Linked DNA regions of Homo sapiens: region 1 is linked to region 2. Evidence: fine-mapped expression QTL. A gene starts in region 2. The other region holds a variant in brackets. All regions are shown on one strand. Distances are between the middles of the regions. Region 1 overlaps DOCK2 (dedicator of cytokinesis 2). Region 2 holds the start of DOCK2 (dedicator of cytokinesis 2).

The links. PIP is the estimated chance that this variant, and not a neighbour inherited with it, causes the effect.
Region 1: its variant is fine-mapped to the expression of DOCK2 in whole blood (TOPMed, PIP above 0.99).

What each region holds. Positions count from the first base shown.
Region 1 is chr5:170,076,144-170,088,038 of GRCh38, forward strand. It overlaps DOCK2 (dedicator of cytokinesis 2), which reads left to right. Exons shown (of 52, transcript NM_004946.3): 48 at 1,567-1,694; 49 at 2,832-3,003; 50 at 4,020-4,140; 51 at 5,699-5,841; 52 at 6,653-7,239. The coding sequence ends at 6,715. Among named protein-coding and RNA genes, the nearest start is that of FOXI1, 24 kb to the right of the region's middle. The variant C/G (reference allele first, on the strand shown) is at 4,886.
Region 2 is chr5:169,631,543-169,643,533 of GRCh38, forward strand. It overlaps DOCK2 (dedicator of cytokinesis 2), which reads left to right and starts at 5,733. Exons shown (of 52, transcript NM_004946.3): 1 at 5,733-5,827. The coding sequence starts at 5,785. RefSeq lists silencers at 5,601-6,080, 6,111-6,170 and an enhancer at 6,431-6,530.

The DNA of each region.
Region 1 (11,895 bases), 440 kb after region 2:
TGCTGGAGGCTGAAGTTGGAGGGGATCCAGCAAAGGAAGCTGCTTCCAAAGAGAAGATAATGATGGCCAGCATTGCTGGATCCCATCCAGGGGAACCCTCCTGGAAACTTGGTCCAGCAAAAGTAACCCCCAGACAAACTCCAGTTACAACTGGATTGTGCAGATACCAACTACTCAAGGGACTGTGTAATAATAATGAAAGCTACACTGATGCAGCATCTACTATGTGCCAGGCCTGATTCAAGCACTTGACATCTACTAGGTCATTTAATCCTCACCACAAGCCTGAGAGGCAGGAAAGATTTTTAATCCTTTGTATTTCTTCTGAGGTTCAGAAGGTCAGGCAACTTGCCAGAGGCTATGTGGCAAATGAATGTGGGGCAGAATTTGCATCTGGCTCTGTTAGTTTAAGGCCAGTGATTTTGACCGCTGAGCTCCTTGGCCTAAAGAGGCCATGAGCCTGGTGCTTACGGGGTGCTTCTTCATCCTTTTCCTTATTAACTGGTGTTATAAAATGTCAAGGCCATGCAATTCCTTTAAAACCATCTGGTCCAGCCTTCCCATTTTACAGATGGTAAAACTGAGACCCAGAGAAGAAAAGTGAATTACTGGAAGAACCTACAGATGCACTCAGGTCTCTTGATTCAAAGATTTTTTTCCATGAGGCAGTTTGTCACTTTCAATACTCCCTACATGAAGTCCCTGTAATGCAATTCTGGTGCTAACTCCCTGGAGTTAGGTCACATTTCACAGGTTAGAAGCACAGTCTTAGACACTTCCCACTTCAAACACCAACCATAAGCTTCAGGGACCCAGGCCACCCACACTTCTGCCTAACTGGTTACAAACTGGGAGATTCCCACTACCCCATCAGGTTTCATAATTCACTAGAATAATTCACAGAACTCAGGAAAGCATGATACTTATGATTTCAGTTTATGATACAAATCAAGACCAGCCAGGTAAAGAGACACAGAGTGAGGTCCAGGAGGGTCCCAAACATGAAGTTTCCACGTATTCCAGATGCATCCCCCTTCTGGCACATTGATGTATGATTACCAGCCAGAGAAGTTCACTAGAGCCTAATGTCCAGAGTTTTTATTGGGGTTTTATTATGTAGTCATGATAGATTGAACCATTGGCCATGTGATGGAAATCAGTCTCTGGGCCTGTCCACTCCCTGGAGGTTGAGCTGATACCACATGGCTTAAAGCCCCAGCCCAGCCCTATAATCATAGAGCTGGTCTTTCTGGCCATCAGGAGCCATCTTATTAGCATAAAATCAAGTATGGTCAAGGGGGCCACCATGAATAATAACAAGGATACTACTATCACATAGGAAATTCCAAAGTTTTAGATATTACCTTCCAGGAACCAGGAGTAAAGGTCATCCACATTCTTCATTCTACAAGAACGCCCTAGCCTCAGCCAGCCAGGAACTTTTGTGCTGATGCTCCACTCAGCCCCACAACTCTGCCCTGCCTAGGTGGAGGAAGAAGGTGACAGGAAGGCTGGGGCCACCTTCCCCAGGCTACAGCTGCTAACCACCCTGTTCTCCCACCACAGCCTGACTTTGACGACAGGAGAGTGGGCCGTCCCAGGTCTATGCTGCGCTCATACAGACAGATGTCCATCATCTCTCTGGCTTCCATGAATTCTGACTGCAGCACCCCCAGCAAGCCTACCTCAGAGAGGTCAGTCCCTGCACCCCAAGGAGCCCCCCACACCCCTGCCTCCCTGGCTCTATCCCCCCTCCTTCTCTCTCTTCTCCGGCAACATCCCTTCTACCTTTCCCTTCCTCCTTTCAGTTTAAAAGCCTTTTCCCATCTGCAGTCTCACAACTACCCCAGGAGGCTCATGGTTAGTACCATTTTTAGGGGATTATCAGAGGCTCAGAGAGGCAAGGCAGCTTTCCTGAGGACCCAGCAGGAGTCACCTGCAGCCCCCAGACTTCTAGTCCAGTGATCTCTGTCAGCCAGGCAGAGCTCCTCACCAAGCCTGCATCCTTCTGGAATATTGTCACCTCTCATAGGGATCTGTTCCCTTTCAAGGAAGCTCCTCCCAACCACGATGGGATGTCTCCATTGCAGAGCTCTTCCTCCTGCACCACCTACCCACCCCTCTGTCGGGGGTCTTCCCTCCCTTGCCCCTTCCACCTTCCTGGAGCCCTCTGGCCATCATTGTTGGACCCTCCAGAAACTTCCCTGCGGGCCTCAGAGGTTACTCTTGCCCAGAGGGAAAAGGATGGAAACGTCTTCTGTTTCACAGTTCTAGGGGGCATCATTCACAATTCTAGGGGGCACCATTCACCCTGCCCAACTCATCTGTTCTAATCATAGATACATGAGCAACCCAGCACTTACCATATGCCAAGAATATGCCAAGGGTTCCTCAGACATCATCTCATGGCCACTCTGCAAGGTCTCTGCGAAGACCTCCATTTACTGAAAAGGAAATGATGGCTTGAAGAGGTTGAGTGATTTACCCAAAGTTATTCATTCAGCTAAGAACTGGCCGTGCCTGGATTTGAATCCACATTCATGCTTTCAACCAGTCTTCTCTCCTCACCACCAGTTTCTTTTCTATGGCTCACTTCTTTCAATTTCATTTTACCACGAATAAAATAAAGTGAACTTTACTCATCACATTTAACTGTTTGTGCATTGAGCAAGTTGCTCCCCAAATCCTCTGCCAGATTTGCTGATCTACTCCAGACCCTGTAGTGACAGCTCAGGCAGCCCAAAGGTCCCCTTCAGCTTCCTGGGTCCTTGCAAGGCAGTTCTACTGAAGCTCTAACTGCAGTTTCTATTGCTGCCCCTCTGGCCTTTCAGCTTTGACCTGGAATTAGCATCACCCAAGACGCCGAGAGTGGAGCAGGAGGAACCGATCTCCCCGGGGAGCACCCTGCCTGAGGTCAAGCTGCGGAGGTCCAAGAAGAGGACAAAGAGAAGCAGCGTAGTTTTTGCGGATGAGAAAGCAGCTGCAGAGTCGGACCTGAAGCGGGTGAGTGGCTGAGGCAGATTGCCTCTCCAGCGCTGTTAGCACATTTCCACTACATGCTGGGCACAAAACCCAGGGCTTCCAGATATGGGCTTCCTGAAGCCTGCCACTGCGGTGCTATGGGTATTGCAGAGGCGGCACCTGAGGAGCTGAGAGGTGAAGTGCTTACTCGTGCCCAGGCAGCTGGGGTGGCTGGGACATGACAGAGCTGGGAGTTGAGCCCTGACCTTTGCACTTCAGAGCCTGTGTGTATCCTTTCCACCATCACACAGGGCTTTTCCAGGCTGGGGAGAATCCACCTGTTCTCCCACCAAAAGGGAGAGCAGCCCACTTGGTACTGAGCTAGGTGTTTCTATAGCCCCCAGCCCCAGGCCTATTCTAACCACTGATGTCTCAGACCCCTGCAAGCCCCTCCTGTGTGCCAGGAGTCCAGGTGGGGATACAGGGATGAAATCTCACTGTCCTGGCTTTGAGAGTGTTGGTCTTGTAAACTAACGATTATTTAAAAATGAGACTTGGTTTCAGACAGCCCTGGATTCAATCTTAGTTTCCCCCTGGAAAAGAGGTTTGTTGGAAGTGTTCTGGGAACCTGGGAGTGGGAGATGGATTAACTGCCCTGGCAAGGGAGGGGTGCCAAATGAAAGAGCAAGGGGCCAACCAAGATGCCTTAGTGAAGAAAGGGCCCTCCAGAAACTTCCCAGTGGGCCTCGCAGGCTACTCTTGCGTGGATGGATAAGAATGGAAATGTCTTCTGTGTTTGTCGATTCTAGGGGACACCATTTACATGATAGTCTAAATGAATGTCCGCCACCCCCGCCTGTAGTTGTGTAGTGTGCAACCTGTGCAACCATATGTGGCAGGCTGGCATGGAATGGTATAATACAGAATAAATGAACTTGGAGCCAGCTTCATAGAAACCATGCCACGCCCTCCTCACTGATCTTTCAGAGACCCAGATCTGCCTCATGCTAAGCCTCTGTCTTTGTGTGTGTGTGTGTGTGTCTGGTGTATTCCTCCAGCTTTCCAGGAAGCATGAGTTCATGAGTGACACCAACCTCTCGGAGCATGCGGCCATCCCCCTCAAGGCGTCTGTCCTCTCTCAAATGAGCTTTGCCAGCCAGTCCATGCCTACCATCCCAGGTATGCCCCCTGCTGCCACCAGCATGAGGGAGTAGAGATAGTGCAGGCCACCAGCCTTGTGGGTGGAGGATGGATGGGAACTGTGTCTACACAACAAAGTGGGCCAGGCATCCTGGAGTGAGAGGCTCTGCTCATAGCCACCCACCCTCTAATCTCTCCCCACACCCACCACTTCCTGGGGGTGACACCATCCCAGCAAGCTCCAGCAGGGACAGGGGAGAGGCCTGCTGTCCCTTGGGCCCTCAGGATTCACTGAGCATCCATTTGTCACACTAGGTGGCCCCTTGTTCTCAGTTAGCCAGGCCTCCCCAGGGGCCAGAAGTTTGCCCTTGGTATGTCCCTAAGACCTGTGGCTTCTTTGTGGACCTGGAAGACTCTTTCTGGCTTTACAGAAATGGCCACCACATCTTATAGCTGCAAAGTGTTTGGTGCATAGATGCTACCTATCTGCCACCGTCGTCACTCACTCACTGTCCAGTGAGGAGGTTAGAGCACAGCCGATGGTCCTAACTCACAGAAGGGAATCTGAGGCCCTAACAGGGGACATGGCATGCCTGAGAGCACTCCATCTGGTAGGCAGAAGTCCTTGACGTCTGCTGCTATGTGCCTGGCTCTGTGTGCTAAGGGCCAGGTCAGAAGGGAACAAGACAGGACCAGTGCTGCCCTGTGGAACTCAGCAGGCCGATCATGGTGAAGACGCTTGCTGTTTCCTGAACATTGAGGGTGCCAGGCCCTGCGCCAACTG[C/G]TACTCCTTCTTTATTTCATTTACTCCACTGCGCATACCCAGGAAGTAGTTCATGTTATCCACCCCATTGTATGGATGAGGAAACTGGGGCACTGAGAACATCACTCTCTTGCCTATCACCAGCCAGCAAATGGCAGAGACTGAGTTCAGACCCAGGCCCTCTTCCCTGGAACAGGCACCTACCCACTGCCCCGCCACCACCCCCAGGATAGCCTGAACACAGCTGCAACATTTGGCCCAAGCCATTTCACTGGTATCTGCTCAGCAGGTCTCACCACACCCTGGCGGTCTGGGCTCTTTCTCCCATTTGGCCAATGTCAAAACCAGCAGTCAGAGAGTAACTAATTTTTCATGTCTCTGTGACGCCAAGCTGGGGCTGTAACCACTAGGTCATCTGGCCCCTCCACCAGGTGACACGTGGGTTTGAGACTCTCTTCCCGCTGTCTCCTGCAATGGGGAGAGAAATCCAGGGTGTTGGTGTTGGGAGCTGGAGGAAGAGTAAGCTCACACTGTCCCCTGCCTTGGAGCAGAAGGTTCTGTTTCCTGGGGATGTCAGGGCTTTGGGGCAAGGTTTTGACCAGGAGCCAGGAGGCTGAACCCTTGTCTGTAGGGTGGGCAATCTTCACTGCAAGAGGACAGCTTCAATGTCCCCTGGCACGGCAGGAAATAGGCATCCTGCCTCCTGCTTGGCACATACAATGTGTGATCCCTGGATGCTGGCTCTGTCCCCCAGCCCTCCCCCTGTCTACCTCCCCCAAGGCACTGCCCCTCCTCTACCCACCCATTCACACCCCAGCTCTGCTCTCCTTCCAGCCCTGGCGCTCTCAGTGGCAGGCATCCCTGGGTTGGATGAGGCCAACACATCTCCCCGCCTCAGCCAGACCTTCCTCCAACTCTCAGATGGTGACAAGAAGACACTCACACGGAAGAAGGTCAATCAGTTCTTCAAGACAATGGTGAGGACATTGAGGGTGGAAGGAAAGGAAGGCATTGGGAGGAGAAAGGGAAGAGAGCAATGCAGAGAGAAGAAAATGGGGGGTTGTGTGTGCATATGTGGTCATTCCTAGGGAGGCATAGTCAGGAGGCCCTGAGTTCTGGGACACTGTGCAGCAATGCCCAGAGGGCAGTTCTCCTCTGGGGCCTCAGGCAGCTCCTCTGACCAGGATTGACCCCAGCTAGGGATGTGCAGGACCCAGGGACCTCAGAAGCAGTAGGTGGCCTACCCTCGCCTAAACTGCCCCTTAGTGCTCCAGCCCTTTTTTATTCAACCTATATCACAAAATCCTACAAATTGAACATTAGTTTCCAAGCGCTGATTCTGCAAGTCCCATCTCCTATTGTTACTTGTTGGCCTTTGCTCAAGATCAAGAAGGTACCATAACACATCTGATCCTCAAGGTAATATGAAATCAGGACTCTGCTACTACAAATATCTCAAGTTTACCATGAGCACACGATGAGTCAGGCACCATGCTAAGCACTTCCCAAGCATGGTGCCATTTGAGCTCCCACTCTTAGGATTTTATATGGGAGGCTCACAGGGTTTGGTAAGTGAGGTGCCCAAGTCCACATGGCTAGTGAGCCTGGGCTCACTCTACTGTCTACCACTGCCTTTCTGGCCAAAGCCAAGGGCATAGCAGCTCACATTCACTGGGCTTTGGGCAGGGGTCAGTGTTGAGGCCCTTGTGATTAGGACTGGGAAGCTCCATTTTGGTGCTTAATCTGATAATCGCATCTTGGTTTTGTGCTTGTTTATTCTCTCAAAAGCTGGCCAGCAAATCGGCTGAAGAAGGCAAACAGATCCCAGACTCGCTGTCCACGGACCTGTGAGCTGCTGCTGACTAGGGCTGCATGGGAGAGCCAGGGAGGGGAGTTTCTGGAAGAGGAAAGCCATGCGTGGAACATCGAAGCCTCAGAGAGTGGGAGACTGTCCCCATCAGTTGTCCTTACTTAGAGGAGACAGAGAGGCCAATCAGGTCCCAGAGCTTGAATGCTAACAAGCCCAGCATCCCCTGGGGCTGTGATCATGGTGGATGAGGAAGCCTCAACGTAGATTCCTGAACTCAAGGTACCAGCAAGAATGCCTTCTCCCAGTGTGCTCTCCCCAACATCCTAGGCACAGCTTTCATAACCCAGTTTCTTAGGTGTAAGAAACTGTTTTTATCTCATTTATTAAGTCTCAGAACTTAACAGAAAAGGAAGCCTTTTAAATATTCTTTTTAATTTTATTTTAGATTAACAGTTTTGTACTTTACATTTTTTTATACAACCAACCAGTTTCTTTTCTAGCCAATCATCTCTGAAGAGTTGCTGTTTCTTACTGACAATAAAAAATGTTCTCTTGGTTCGAATAAGCCTTGTTGCCTGATTCTGTTGGCTGACTCTCCTGGGCCCAGGACTGGGCAGGAAGCTCCCTGGAAGGAAGGCAGGCCCAGGGGCTGCAGTGATGTGAAGGAGCCTGGTGATGCCCTTGCCCAATGCCAAATTTCCCCACCTCATCTATGAGAAGATTCTTCAAGAATCTCCATGACTCTTGTTCCTTAGGTGCCAAACCCTGGGCTACCAGCATGTTAAAAAAGTTGCCCTGGTCTTCCTCACGAATCTGAATAGTGGAGTGTCATACCTCCTTTCTTCACCTTTAGAAAGAGATGGCAAGACCACCCAAGCCAGGTCACTCTAGTAAAGACCAAACATAATGCCAAAGAGTTAGGAAAAGAGGGGTCTGAGGTCCAGTGGACTTATGGTCCAGCTCTTGGATCTTGTCACCGGCTCCCAAGTGGTGGCTTTTCTTGGAGGAATTCTCAGGTTTTTCAGATGAGGCCCAAAGGAGGTGAGTAGCTTTGTCAGGCAGCAGCAAGAGAGGATGGGAGCAAAGTCCCACGTCTGGATCCTACAGAGAGCAGGGAGCTGTGCAGGGGAGGGGTCCAGAAGGAGGCGGAGGACTGCATTTGAGAAGGAAATTAATACTGGGTAAGTGCATGACAACACAGGTTTCAGAACTAGAGCCATCTGGAAACCTTGGGGTGGATGCTCATTTACAGGCTGGGTCCCTGGGGTATAGTAAGAGATGAGAAAGAATGATGATGGTAGCTCAAATTTATTGAGCCCTGACTGTCTCTGGGACAGTGTTATAGACATGATAAGAATGAACTTCCTAAGTCTAGACAGCAGCCCTAGGAGGTAGATACGATTGCTACCCAGATGAAGAAATGGAGGCACAGAAGCATGAAGTGACCCAAGATCACACGCTTAGTAATGGAATGGCTGGGATTCAAACCCAGACAGCTGGGTGGGAAGCCTGACTCTTAGGCACCACCCTACATTGTCTCTGGGACACCTTAGTGCACAGAATATCCTGAGTCTTGGTAGCCTTTATCCACCCCAGCCTGTCCCTGGTGGCCTCTATGTCCCTGCTGCAAGCCCCATTTGAAGACGTGTTGCCTAGTTCAGCTTCTAGTTTCCTCAACAGTCTAAAAAGTCCTGTTGCGATGATTGTTGGGGTTTGGGCTACAACAAACACCTTTGGGTTCCCTAAGGTGAGTAAGCAGCACCTGGAGGATTGGACTCTATTACGAGCTTGGCTTCTCATGCCTGCTTTTTCTCTTATTATGAACTGATAAAATCCTACTGTTTAGCTTTGACATGTAAGCCCTTCCAAATACCAGTGGGCAGTGGGGGCCAGGGAGGAGGGGGCAAATCTCAACAAGGAAAAGAAAATGGTTCTCCCTTTTCCCACAACTACAGAAAAGCAGATATGATCCTGTGCCTTGAAACTGCAGATGTTACCCTCACTCGGGAGTACTGAAAAACACCCATACTCAGAGGTTGTTGCTATGTCGTCCCGAGAAAGTAAGCTTTAACCCCTAAAAATTCTGTAACTGATTGATCTTCTCGCTTAACACCGTGTGACCCTGGTAATAATATTTCTGAGTTCTATTTTCTGAAGATTATCAGTATCTATGAGTTTTCTTATTAAGTCTGAAGGGGACCATTGGCACTTCCCTGTTTTCCCATATAAATGGAGCAAGACGTTAAACCCATAAACAGGGTTTGAAAGTCAAATGTCATTTCAGTTAAGAAATGAGGTTGACAGCCCACTTAATCCTTTGCCAGAAAAATTTTAGATGCTGCCATCACATGGCAGGAAAAACAATGCCAGTAGTAATAACAATAACAAGCAATAATAATAATACAGCTGCCACTTACCAGGCACTTACTCTATATGTCATTTCCTTAAATCCTCACACCAATCCTATGAGCTAGACACTACGGTCCCAATCACATTGATGTGAAACTCAATTCCAAGGTTGAGGAGTTTGTGATGTGGCCTTGTCACCTGACTAGTAAGGGACACAGCCATCTCTATCCACACCAAGCCTCGTGATCTTAATCCACACATTCACTTTATACCTGGGACCTCAGCTCAATGTCAGACTCTATTTCACCGTCCATGATTGTTTGCAAGTCTTCTCCTACAATGCCAATGGTGGCACCTGGGAAAAATGAAGGTGGGGTTAGGCATTTGGCATAGCCCTCCTGGTACCACCGATGTTCCCTTATTGTATACAAGTTCTGTCCAAAACAAGCTAGTCATCTCAAGGAAGGGTGTATGTCTCAGAATTTCCAGAAGGAGGTAGCATTGGATGGGATTGGAGGAAGGATCTCTTTATATGTCTTCCCTTCTTGATGCTGTTTTCTGGGACCCTTAGGGACCACTTCATCCAGTGCTCTCATTTTACACAGTTAAGTGATCTCTCCAATGGCTGTGATCAGCAGGACCCAATCTGGAATCCAGGTCTTCTTCCAGGTAATCTCCCATCAGTGGAAATCTCTCACCTTCTCTTTAAGCACCCAGTGACGCTTGTTCTCTGTCTCCAAGACAGGGTTGATATCTGCGATTCATACTTTGGTTTGATCTAGAGCACTACATTCCCTTCCTTTCCTTAAGGGAGGGGTATTTTTAGCCTTTATTCCTAAGCATGGAGTAGAAGTCTTCCTTCTTTCTTCTAGGCTTTCAGGCTTATGTCAGCAAGTAGAAGAGAAATTGAGGGAAACAAATGGCCTTCCCAGCATCCAAAATCAGGCTGGGCTCTGCTTTCCAGACATGCTAACCTGTAACACATCTGTATGCCTCTCCTGGCTGAAACCTGGGTGTTTCTGCCTCCCTGCCATAGCTTCAGTTCCCTAGGAAACAGATCCTCAGGCAATGATTGAATGCCATGCTCTTTTGGGGCTGTGCAATCTTAGGGTGAAGGAAAGAGGGAAAAGGGATTGGAAGCAATGAAAGTTGAGGTATTAACTCTACTTGTCTCTGGTTCACACTAAGCCACAAAGAGACTCAACTTGTCAGGCAGCATTGAGCAGGGTATCTTTGGGCAGGGTATAATAGAGAAATCAAACCCCAGAAGAGTCTGTAAAAAGGAGAAAGTCCGGGCGTGGTGGCTCACGCCTGTAATCCCAGCACTTACGGAGGCCAAGGTGGGTGGGTCATGAGGTCAAGAGATCAAGACCATCCTGGCCAACATGGTGAAACCCTGTCTCTACTAAAAATACAAAAATTAGCCAGGTGTGGTGGCATGCACCTGTAGTCCCAGCTACTCAGGAGGCTGAGGCAGGAGAATCACTTGAACCTGGGAGGTGGAGTTTGCAGTGAGCCGAGATTGTGCCACTGCACTCCAGCCTGGCAACAGAGTGAGACTCTGTCAAAAAAAAAAAAGGAAGAAAAGGGAATGTATTTGCCCAGCTTGCCCCTACCTCAGTCTCCTGTTTCTAGTAGTAAGTTCCCCCTGTTGGGTATGGTAAAACCCTTCATGGTTTTACCTGTGGATTGCATCATTTAGCCCTTTCAGTAGCTGCTTGGGAAGCTAGATCCCACGCCCCACAAAGTGGCATTCCATCCAAGGGCAGAATTTGTGTAAGAAACCAGCAACTCAGGGAATAAGCCAGTAGTCTGGGCTCTGTTGCAGCAAGAAAAGGGAAGAGCAAGGCCTTATGGACAAGCAACTGGTGGACTCCAGGTGGGAGGACCATGTGAACCTAAGTTGGCTGCAGTGGCTACTGAGGTAGAGCAGACAGCTGGCGTCCCAGAAAACCATGGCCTCTGAAGGAGCCGAAAAGGCATATGAGATTGTCTGGGACATTCAGACCCTCACATGCCCCTTCTGTTATCTCCTGCTCCTATTATAGCTTGTGAATCTTCTCTCTCTCTCTCTCTCTCTGTGTGTGTGAGTGTGTGTATAAGATGTACTTTCTCCTTTCCTACAAAAAGATGAACAAATCCATATGCTTTCTCCTTTCCTAGGAGGGGATGTCCAAGTCCATGTGCTTTTTCCTTTCCACATGTCCAAGTCCACATGTTTTCTTTCCCATAAGAGATGTCCAAATTCATGTGCTTTCTCCTTTCCCAAGAAGGGATGTCCCAGTCCAAGCAGTCACAGAGTCCACTTCAAGGCGGCATTTAGTTATGATCTCCCACACAACCTACAGCAAGAAGATTTGTGAAAGAAGCCACGATAGCTACTGCAGCTGGACCAAGACTATAACAGATACTCATTATCTCCTTCCTCCACCACCCAGTTAAGTGTCTCTGACCCACAGGTCACACTTCATCTGGACTGGGTTGCCTGCCTGCTGGGCTGCTCAGACCTCTTATCCCCAAAGGGTCTGAGTCTAATTGCTCCACCCTTCTTGGTTTGTGGTTGTTGTAATTACCTAGTGATCATTACCAGTGGGCATGAGTGTACTAAGAAAGGGCCCAGTGATCCCCTTGGTTCCAGGCACGCTCCTCTCTGCGCCTATTGAATCAACATCCGAGGTCCTCATGTAATCAGGGTCAGTTGCTGATCCATGAGCATGATAAGCCAAAGTGGCCAAGTGGTCGTCACACCTCCAGTTCAATGGGGGCATCACTCTGGCCCTACCTTGTGACCATATTATGGGTTGATTTGTGTCCTTCTAAAATTCACATGTTGAAATAATAACCTCCAATACCTCAAGATGTGACCTTATTT
Region 2 (11,991 bases):
ACTACTCAGAACAAGCTGACAGGCACTGTAGTGACGCAAGAATGGGAGGAGGGCACTCGAATGTCTTGAGATATAGCTATTTAGCAACTGTATGGAAATATTCCAATATTTAGTAATCATTACAGGCATACTAGTGAAATCCAGCCAAATCTTGGACCTGAATACATATGACTCTGAAAAAGATGGACATCAGAAACCTCCCCTTCTGCTGTGCCTTAGGGAAAGAGTTTTCTTCAATTTACCTAAACCATGAGTCCAGTTAGATTTCTTTGGGCTATACTTGAGGCTTTGCATAGTTATTTCCTGTGGAATGTCTTTATTTCACATTTCACAAAAGTTGTTAAACCTCTCACGTTATTACAAACCTGCTTTGCTTATATTTTTCCTAGATTATTCCAGAAGCTTGAGAAGACCAAAACTACTTGGGCAAAGGTTCTCAGAAGTAACATGGAGAAGAGATTGGAAGGAGGCAAGGTTGGAGGAAGGGATCTCTAATCCAAGTTTCAAGGAAGATCTTAAGTTTGTGGGATGGGGAAGAGGGCAGATTCAACAGCTGTTTTTGAGATTATCATTTGGAATGAAAGGAAGATTAGGATGAGTTAAATTTCTGACCCGAGTGAAGTGAAGGGTAATGATGCACTCATGGGCAATCATAGTGGATATTGGCTACAATAAGGGATTTCATTTCTCTGGCCTCAGTTTGCTGATTAGCAAATTGGGGGTAAAATTGGGGTAATAATGGTACCTGTCTTATGGGGCTGCTTTTAGGATGACACGAGATAATGCATGCCAACTGTTTAAATCAGGGATTGAAAGGCAGTAAGTATTCAATGAATGGGGCTCAGAAAGTGTTCAGTGAATTTGCTGCAAACCACAAAGCTAGGTAAGTGATGGAGATGGGGTTCTAGCACCTGATTAAAGCACAGTCTGGTCACTTCATCTGTTAACATTGGGTAGAAACAGTCAGAAGAGGGACAAGTCTAGGGTACAGTTATGATATGAGCTTGGTTTTGAAATATGGAGACATTGATGGGGCTGGGAGGGGATGTCTAGGAGGTAGTTGGACACACAGGACTGAACTTAACAGAAATCTTGGCTAGAGATGTCCTTTTACCCACAGTCATCCCTCACAATGTATGTGAAGTTATAGTCATCAAGAGTGTACTACCTAATAGTCAAGTAACTGACAGATGGTGTTTAATAAAATTGTGTGACCAAGATTATTGTAAATTCTTTAAGTGGTTTTAGTCAGATTTTTATGTTTGACTATTGATCTCTCTTGCCAAAAAATTTTTATGATGCCATAGGATTGTTAACTGTAATGAAAAGCCCATATTTCAGAAACATAAAAGCCATCTCCTAACCATATGAAGTTTAAAGATTTCTGCACTAAAAGCCACCCCATTAAGAAGTTAATTAACCCTCAGTCAAAATTTCTAAACTTCATCTCCTTCAACTGAAAGCAGTTTTTCAACTCTTTTAATATGCTGAATTTGTTTGTTTAACATTATTTAAGGAAGAGATTCCTATTATAGGTTGTGTCACAAGTTGAATGGGGAAAAAAAAACTTCAGTGCTCCTCAAGTTCAATCTTATTTGCTTTCTGGCACCACCACCTACTCTTGGCCTCCCATCAGATACTTTACCACACTGTTAATGTGAAGTTGCCTGTTTGTATGTCAGAAGCTTAAACCTAAATCGAAAAAAAAAAAAAAAGTGTATTTTAGATCAACTGGCTACAAGTTTATGAAGACAACACAACTGTGTATAGCAGAAGATAGCAAACTGTGGTTCACAGATCAAATCTGGCTTGTTGCATGTTTTTGTATGGCCCATGAACTAAGACTAGTTTTTACATTTTTAAACTGCTGAAAAATATCAAAATAAAGATAACATTCCATGCTATATGAAAACTGTAGGAAGTAAAAATTCCATTTTATGGGAACACAGCCATGCTCATTCATTTATGCATCATTTATAGTTGTTTTCATTCTACAATGGCAGAGTTGACTATTTGCAACAAGGACTGTGTATGGTGTTTTCAATGCTACACAGTGCTCTCCAGCAACCCACTAATCACGAGGATGAGATTACAACTCCACAGCATTTAAAGTGCATATCTCTCTCTATGGTAACATTTAAAAAAATTACCAGTGCTATAGCCACCATGTCAAAAAGAAAAGAAAGAATAGTGGGCTCCAAATGTCATGCTTCTAAGGCACAGTGGAGTGTGTATTGTTTGTTACCAAATTAAATAGCACTATGGTTTAAATGTGACCCCCCCCAAAGTTCATGAGTTGGGAATTTAATCCCCAATACAGCAACAGTGTTGGAAGGTGGGGCCTAATAAGATGTAATTAGTAGATCATGAGGGCTCTGCATAAATAGATTAATGTTGTTATCGTAGGAGTGGGTTAGTTATTGAGGGAGTGGTTAGTTATTGTGAGAGTGGGTTTGTTATAAAAGTGAGTTTGGGCTTCTCTTGCTCTCTGGCTCTTGCCCTGTCACCTTCCACCACGGGATGGCACAGCAAAAAAATGCCCTTGCTGGATGTTGGCCCCTTGATATTTAACTTCCCAGCCTCCAGAGGTGTGAGCCAAATAAATTTCTGTTCATCATAAATTACACAGTCTGTAGCATTCTGTTATAGCAGCACAAAACAAACAAAGCAGAGGAGAAAGCATTGTGTTTATTACATGTTGACACTCCAAACAATATAATAGATTAAGCACTCATCACATCTTTTCCAACTTACACAAAAGCAATGACAAGAAAAATTAGAAAATTTAAAACAGAATATCTCATCACAGCACAATTTCTTTAAAATAATAAAAAGTGAAAATGAGACTACAACCAGAATAAGTTTCCAAGTGGCTTATTTGTTATGCAAGCAAGGCAAAATATTTTATTGATGTTAAGTTCATTAAATCATGTTTGATTATAGCAGCAGATGAAATATATCCAGTGAAAATAAATTAGTTTAAGACTTTTAGCCTTTTGGTGACACTGGTTGCTTGGTTGAGAACATTGACAGAAGCATCAATAGTGAATTTTAAAATGACTTCTAGTGGTTTTCCTTAGTTCTTGTTGACAAATATTACCAATACAGCTCAGTTGTTGTTTATTTGAGAAGTCAATGCTGAGTTCGAAGTGAATGAAGAAATAGCTTCTATGAAGAGCCTGTGTAGAAGAACTATAGGCAAGATTACTTTAAAAGAAAATGAGAAAACACTAATTCAACACAACCTGAAGTGGAATCTGCTAAGATGTGTTGCTAGTGTTCATGGTAAAAAAAATATCTGTGGAGCAGAAGAAGGCTTTTGGAGCAAATTTAGAAGGTGGGTGAAAATATAAGATATTTAAAGCTTATGATTATTAATTGTAATATTCACCATCAGGTACTTTGTGGAAAATATCTAAATCTGTGATGTTATTGAATCAGTGGTATCAAAGGTTAATTTTATTAGCTTTTCTGGACTTTTAACCATTGCCCATTTGGTAAACATTTTTTTCAGAAATAGAAAGTAAATATCCTGTCAGATCAGCATTAACATATGAATATTTGAATCAATTTCGATAAGGCACATTAACTTTGAACTCCAATAAGGTGAAATGTGATATCATTCCCAAAATGTATTTTTTTTTGCCTTACTAAGCTAGTATTACAAAAAATACTCATTCACATGATATTTTGAATTTTATTAATAAAAAAAATTTAGAACCTTTTTTCTTTCTTTACATAAGTACCTGCATCCTACATATATACTTGATTTTGCTTTCTGGACTGCAAAGACTAAAATACTATCTGTGACTTTACAGAAAATGTTTGGCATCCTCTATTGTATAGTCCCAATTTATAACATTGTTGTGATAGCTAGTTTTGTGAGTCAACTTGGCAAGGCTATGGCCCAGTTATTCAATCAAATACCAATCTTCACAATCTTCACAGGGGTTGCTGTGAAGTACTTTGTAGATGTGATTAACATCTACCATACATTGAATTTAATTAAGGGAGATTATCCTCAATACATTTGGTTGGTGTGATCCAATTAGTTGACAAACCTTATGAATAGAACTGAGGTTCCTTGAAAAAGAAGAAATTCCTCCTGAGGACATCTGCCTGTGAGTTTCCAAACTGCTCTTCCTGACAGCCCCACAATCGCATTAGCCAATCCCCAATCTCTCTCTGTCTCTCATATACATATATATGTATGTGTATATATATATATATATATATGCATATATGTATGTGTATATATATATGCATATATGTATGTGTATATATATGCATATATGTATGTGTATATATATGCATATATGTATGTATGTATGTGTATATATATATGCATATATGTATGTATGTATATATATGTATGCATATATATAAAATCTCCTACTCTGGTCATCTGGTGGAACCCTAATACCACTGCTGACTGTATAAGACATTATTACCTAATTTGTGCTGCTAGAAAACAGAAAAGAAAATAACTGCAGATAAAACAAAATCAATAATTTTTTGTTGCTCCAGTTCAGCTGTGATATTGCCTAATCTATCTTAATGACTCTCCAGTGTAAGGCAGAAAGGGGTAGTGAGAGTCATGAATAAAGAAAGAAAACTCAGCAAAACTTAAATTCAGCCTTATCACTGTGGATCAGACTTTTTTTTTTTTTTTTTGGACAGAATCTGTTCTCAGAGCAAAAATGAGATTTTTCGAGGAAATGTCTCCATTAGCCTAACTCTAGGGCTCTTTTCCTGGGTCCCACTGTTGCTGGCTGTGACAGCACCCTTCACCTTGCAGTGATGTTGGTAAATAGTGTATTTACGTATTTTCAGAGTAGAGCTTCTAGAGCTTACATCAGATTTTCCAACGGGTTTGTAGCACCAAAACGATAAAAAGCTGTAAATGGGCCAGGCACGGTGGCTCACACCTGTAATCCCAGCACTTTGGGAGGCTGAGGCTGGCGGATCACCTGAGGTGGGGAGTTCGAGACCAGCATGACCAACATGGAGAAACCACGTTTCTACTGAAAATGCAAAGTTAGCCGGGCATGCTGGTGCATGCCTGTAATCCCAGCTACTGGGAAGGCTGAGACAGGAGAGTCGCTTGAACTCGGGAGGCGGAGGTCGCGGTGAGCCGCGATCGCGTCGTTGCACTCCAGCCTGGGCAGCAAGAGAGAAACTCGAAACTCCGTCTCACAAAAAAAAAAAAAAAAGGCTGTAAAGGATCCACCTCCAGGTAAACATTTACTCTTCCATGTCACCTGCTGTGTACATTGTCTCTCTAACCCTCACAATAATCATATGAAGTAGGTATTAGTATCCCATTTCACAGATGAGAAAACTGAAGCTTAGAAAAATGAAGTCATTTGTCCCCGTCTGGATTCGAACCGAGATCTGACACCAAAGCTCATGCTGAGGGGAGTTAAGGAGGTTTGTTCAGTCCCTAGGCACGGCAATCAGGAAACTCTCTGCACTTGCGGTGGTGGTCTGGCGAGCCCCAGGTGGGGACTGGCCTCTGCTCCCTCGCCTGGGGAGGAGACAAAGTGGGAGTGGTCCCCAAGTTTTGCGTGAAGTGGGGTGGGGTGGCGTGTCTTAGCCTACGGGGCACCAGCCTTCTAGTGTGCCCCTGCCCAACGGGAGGGAGGAGGGAGCGGGGAGCCCCGGCGAGGGAGGAGAGGGCGGGCCCTGAGAGGAGTTTGAAAAGAGGAAGGAAGTGGGGCCCTGCGGCGCCCAGCCACCCCCTGACGGCTTCCCCACGGGAGGACGCGAGGCCCCGGCCCAGCCATGGCCCCCTGGCGCAAAGCTGACAAGGAGCGGCACGGCGTGGGTAGGTGCGGGCCCCAGGGCGCGGCAGGGAGCGGGACAGGTGGCGGGAGAGCCGCGAGCAGGAGGATGCTGCGGGGCCGGCGGCGCGGGGTGGGCAGGGCGCGCTGCCTGCAGGTCAGAGGGCGCAGCCTGCGGCGGGGCCTCGGGGCGGGAAAGCCGAGGCTCGGGGAGAGGACGGCGGGACCCCACCCCGCAGGCTAAGCACAGCCCTCGCCCTCTCGCCTGCTGAGGGAACCTTAGACATTTCCGAGATAGGGTCAAGACCTGCGCTTGACAACTCAGTTCTTCGCGCCAAACTCGGCGTCCCCAGGAGTGCCCCAGCTCGCCGCGTGGGAGACTTGGCCTTGTAGAGGGAGCTCCACTCTCCCCTGGCTCAGCCTTGGCCTGCCCACCATGCATACTTCCACCCCCTCCAAAGCGACACCCATTTGCCTGCTTCCCCTGTCTGTTCCTCCTGGGTCAGATGACTCCTGATTTGGCAGGGCATCCAGAGGGCAGCTCAAGCTTGGGGGAATGGGGCTGGACGGTGGGGTTCTCTACTCAGCCCCCCAGAGCCTCTGGGGAAAAAGGCTCCCGCCAGGTGGTCTTAGGGTAACCAAGAAGCTAGCTTCGTCAGCCTCAGCCATCTAAACTCCCAGAAGCCTCTGCCTGGAGCTCAGGGGCGGAAGTGGTGGCTGGGGGAAGGGAGGCCTCAGGTGCTGCTACTCTAAGTGTCATCCGTGGTGCAATCTCCATGGACTCACTGTGGTTTTTAAACTTAAATATCAAATAAAAAGTCACTCTGGAGCTTCCTACACAGGCGGATACCAGACACCATCTCAGAGATAAATATTTCGCAGGTGAGGCATTGGAAGACCCAAACACCCAGAGGGATTTGATGCAGGGGGTCCCCAGGCCACTGTTTGGGAAACACTGCCCTGGAGAGATCAGCAGTTATCCACTCAATTACTGGGTACCGGGCACTGTGGGGTCATTTTGATATAAATGGTCCCCATCCAGAGAACAAATAATAATTCATATCTCAAGGGGCAGTTACAAAGTAAGGAAGGATACAGCTTCTGCCCTTGAGGAGTTATGTGTAAGGCTAGAGGCTTGGACTGGGAAGTCAGAACTGAGTTCAAATCAGGGTCTGTTTCCTCGTCTATAAAGTGGAAGTAATAATAATGCAGGTCTCATGAGACTCTTGTGAGGATTGAATGGGGTTATGCATGGAAAGCATTTAGTAGTGTGCTGGCTCAATAAGAGTTAGTGATTCAGGTCCAGGGTCTTACCTAGCAGCTTCAGAACCAAGAGACACCAGCACCAAGATGCACCCTAATGCCAGATTCAGGACAGTCATGCCTTATGAGACTGTAGTATTTCATGGTTTGCAAGACCAAAGGTCATGCAATCTCTGTCTGACTTCAGAACCCCCATGTGAGGCAGTGTATTATTCCCAACTTACAGGTGAAGTAACCAAGTTTACATCACTTGGAAGCAATGGAGCGGGCCTTAAATTCAATTGTCTTCAGACCCTAGGCCCTTTGCATGGCACCAGAAAAGCATCTAGAAGGGGAACATCATGGGTAAAGGCAGGGAACTGGCATCCCTGAAGTGTGTGGGTCAAACAATAAGTAGTCTGTTTTGGTTTTAGTATTGCTTTTAGTGTTAAAAAAATTTCAGAGGTAGATTATGGCTAGATTGTGAAGGGCTTTGAGTGCCAACCTTCAAAGTTTGGATTTCCTTCTCTGAGCACTGGAGGTTTTGAGCAGTGTCATCTGGAAGAAGTTAAATAGTTAATTAGGATAGGAGTGGGGAATTGGACTTAGAATAGAAGGAAAATGGGTAACAGTTTTACCTGTCTGCTGACTGCCTGGTTAATCTAGCAGGAGGTCACTTATAATCAACATTGCCTGTTAACCTTTACTAGGTTAATCCACTCTGCCTGAGGCTCTTGTCAGTGAAGAGAGCTTTCTCCTTGCAGGAGAGAGGAAAGGGCAGAAAAGAAGGAGGTAGAAAGAGAAACTAACAGTATCAGTTAGGGTTAAGTGTGACAAAGGGTGACAGAAAACCTCCAAAATTGTGGCCTAACCAAGCTGCAAGTTTATTTCTGTCTCTCATGGAAAGCTCAGAAATGGTCTGGGAAGAGGTGGTAAGGTGGCTCATTCTATATCTCACACTGTATCCTTGGCATGTGACTTCTGCCTCCTGAGCCACATAGGCTGCTTAAGCTTCGGTGATCAGGTCCACCTTCCAGCCAGCAAAAAGGATGCAGGGAAAAAGAAGGTCATGGCTTTTCCCTTTAAAGACATTTTCCTGAAGGCACACTTGACATTTCTTCTTACATTACATCCTATTGGCAAAAATGTAATCACATGACTGACTATAGCTGCAAGGGAAGCTAGGAAATGTAGTCTGTAATGTAGGCAGCCATGTACCCAGCTAAAAATTAGGAGTTCTCTTCATAAGTAAGGAGAGGAGGAAGAATATTGAGGATGATATATTAGTTTGCTCAGGCTGCTGTAGCAAAATACCACCAACTGGGTGGCTTAAACAACAGAAATGTATTTTCTCACAGTTCTCGAGGCTGGAAGTCTAAGATCAAAGCACCACCAGGGTTGGCTTGTCTCATGGCCTATCTCCATGGTTTGCAGATGGCTGTCTTGCTGCCTCTTCATTGCTTTCTGTGCAGGCACACCCTTGCTGTCTCTTCCTCCTGTCATGAGAACACCGGTCATATTGGATTAGCATCCCACCCTAAAGGACTCATTTTAACTTAATAATTCCTTTATCTCCGAATATGCACTTATCTCCAAATAGGAGTACCTTCTGAGACACTGATGACTGGGACTTCAGCATAAGAATTTTGGTGGGGACACAAATTCATGACAAATAATCTGTGGTCTCTGGCATGGTATTTTGGGACTATAAAGAGGGCTTCAAGGCAGGAGTCCTGAGATAAAGGGTGAGGGTAGAAAAGAGTTTTGTTTACCCTGAAGCTGAGCCTGCCAGGCAGATTTGTGTGGGACTCTAGTTATTCTTGTAGGGGAGGGAAAAGCTTCTTTCTGCTACTGCATCTTGGGTTTTCTGTAAATTAGACTAACAAAAGACTGATGAACAAGAGAAAACAAACAAGTTTATTAGCATGTACATCCTGCTTACATATGGAGTACTCAAAGGGTTGGTTTGAACTTGAGCTTATACAGCATCTTAGCAAAGGTACAATAAAGGTTTAGAGAAGTAGCAAGTCAAAGGAGGGTTTTAGGCCTCCAAGGGCAGCAAACTGTGGGAAGGGAAATATATGGGGAATCTAATGGAAGATAAAGGGTTATTTGTGCAGGTTCATCTTGGAGCCAACTTTCTGTCTTCTTCATTGCCATAAAACTTCCCTGGGAGAGGGGATTTATGACAGTCCTTATTTCTTAGGAGTTTCTTCAGATAAATATCCAGGAAAGCTTCTTGCTGTACCTGTTGATTCTTATTTGCATCCAGCTCAAAATAATCAATATGCCCTATGGAAGTGGCATATTTTGATCAGAAACCTGTTCTGTATGCAGCTTCTCTCTAGCTATGGTTTTACACCCATGTGTGGTGTTGAGGAATATTTGTTGGTTTCTTCTGAGGGCTGAGGGAAAATCTGTTCCAGGTGTCTCCCCCAGCTGCCAGTGGTTTGCTGGCAATCCTCGGCATTCCTTGGCTTACAAAAGCGTTGCCTTGATCGCTGCCTCCAACTTCACGTGGTATTCTCATTGTGTGCGTGTCTGTCTCCGCATTTCTCCTTTTAAAAAGGACATCCAGTCATATTAGATTAGGGCCCACCCTAGTGACTTCAGTTAAATGTGATTACCTCTGTAAAGACTGTCTCCAAATAAGATCACATTCTGAGGTACTGGGAGTTGAGACTCCAACGTCTCTTTTTTTGGAGGGGGAGGGCACAATTCAAACCATAACAGGCTCTGCAGAAGCAGAGAAGGGATCTTTTTCACAGCTTGGTTGGGGAATATGGAGGAATCCATAACCAGCTCGTGGTTCAGGGATGTGGGTGATGCTGTCGCAGCCCAGGACCCTGGACAGAGCTGATCCATGCACACTGACAGATTTGGCGTGGGCAATGTGTGCTGGTGTCATTTGCACATGGATTTTTGTTGAAGGGAACAAAATCTAGTCAAACCAGTTCAACGAAAATGTGTGTGGTGTGTATCTGTGGGAGAGCAGGGAGAAGTGGTGTATTTTAGGGTCAGAGGAATCACATGGAAATCCAGGAAACAGGAGGAGCCAGGCCTCGGAAAGGGCTTGAACTGAGGCAACCCTGGAAACCTCTGCCTCTCCTCTCATGGCTTCTCAGCTTCTCTGAGCATGCCAACTGTGGTCTCCTTTCTCTCCCCACCACCTCCCTCTGATTGCATTGTTCCTTCGTAACTGATACTCTAATACCACAGTGGTGGCCCCAGCATGCAACCCACCCATCTCTGCACAACCTTGCAGTTCAAGCATCCACTGAATCTTCTCTGTGTTTATTTGTTCAAAGTCCCAACAGAAGAGAGTGGTAGCTTGATTTCCCTTTGTAAGAAAGACAACCCAAGTCAGAGTTCATTGCCAGCCTAATAATGGGCCTCACTCTGGTGAGGGTGCTGCCCCTGGCAGGTCTAATTCTCTGTGACTATGAGGTGGGGTCACATGGCTTGCTACTCCTCTAGCAGGAGCCATGGGTGGGGACTGATTCTTTGAGTTGGAAGCATGAGTGGAAACTGCATCCCAAACATACCCAGGAGCAGAACTTCACTACAGAGGGACCAATTATACTGCTTTTATTGCCAAATGCAACAGTTGAAAGGATAGAGAGCATCACTCACTCATTAACTTGTCCATTTGTTCACTCATTCATTCTTCATTAACTTCTTAAATATTTGTTGGGTGTGTGTGCCAGGCATTATGCTAGTCACTGAGATTACTAGAATTAGGCCAATATGGCCCCTATCCTTCTGGAGCCTGTAGTCTAATAGGGAAGATGAAAAAGAATTTCATGAATAAATCAGTAACCATATAATTACAAATTGTGATATGTGCTGTTTTAATATGAGTGAGAATATTAGGAATGGTCTTGAATTAGATGATGTGAGAAGGCCTCTCAGGAGCAATGGGGAAAAGAATCCCAAAGCCAATGCTTGGAGGGATATTAATACATGCATCTTTGCTACAGTGGCTGACTGTACCTTTGGATTGGTCCCCAGAAATTAGTCTGGTGAAACAAAAATACATGGATTAGACATCTAATTCCTTCCTGCCACCAATTCTTAGGTGCCGGGGCTTCCTACTTTCAGATGCTTCAGCAATTTGGGTCTGTTTAGGAGTGCCTGCTGGGCTGGCTGTTTGAGTTCATGTAAGGAGATTGTCCTAATCCGTAGTTATATGGGCACCTCATTAGGCAGTGGACATCTTGCCCCTGACCATAATGTTTGCATTTGAATGAGCCTTGAAGACAGATTGTGTTTTCTAAGCTCTGCTTCCTCCTGAGATCAGCATCCTATTGCTGCTGTCTTTTGAGAGATGAAATGTAGTCACCATACTGCTCCGCTAATTTCTGGACCTTTGGATTTGTTTTTTTTTTCAATAGTCAATTACACATGGGTGCCACAGTCTGTGCTCTGCAGCATATGTTCTGCAAATGGGGAATGACAGTGCTTATCACCACGCAACTCCAGAGGAGTCTGGGCGGAGACACCACAAATGTTCCCTTTAATAGGCACTTTCTCCTTTCTTCCCCCTTCCCTTAATTGGTGTGAATTGAAAAACAGTCAGGCTGAGTTTGTGAGCTGCTTAAGTCTTATTCTGTTGTTAGTTCTCCTTGGAGAAAGTCATTCCTTGTCTCCCTGCACCCCACCAGGTCAGCTTCTGCTTTGGTTTAAAGTCATGGTGGCAGAAACTGAGGCTGGAGAAAGTATGACCGCCAATGTGGACACTTTCCAGAGCCCTCTCCGTTCATCACTCTAGGGCAGTGGTCTGCAACCTTTTCAGCACCAGGGCTGGTTTGGTGGAAGACAATTTTTCCACAGACTGATGGGGAGGTGGGGCGGGGCGGGAGGGATGGTTTCGGGATGAAGCTGTTCCACTTCAGATCATGAGGCATTAATTAGATTCTCATAAGGAGCATACAACCCAGATCCCTCGCGTGTGCAGGTCACAATA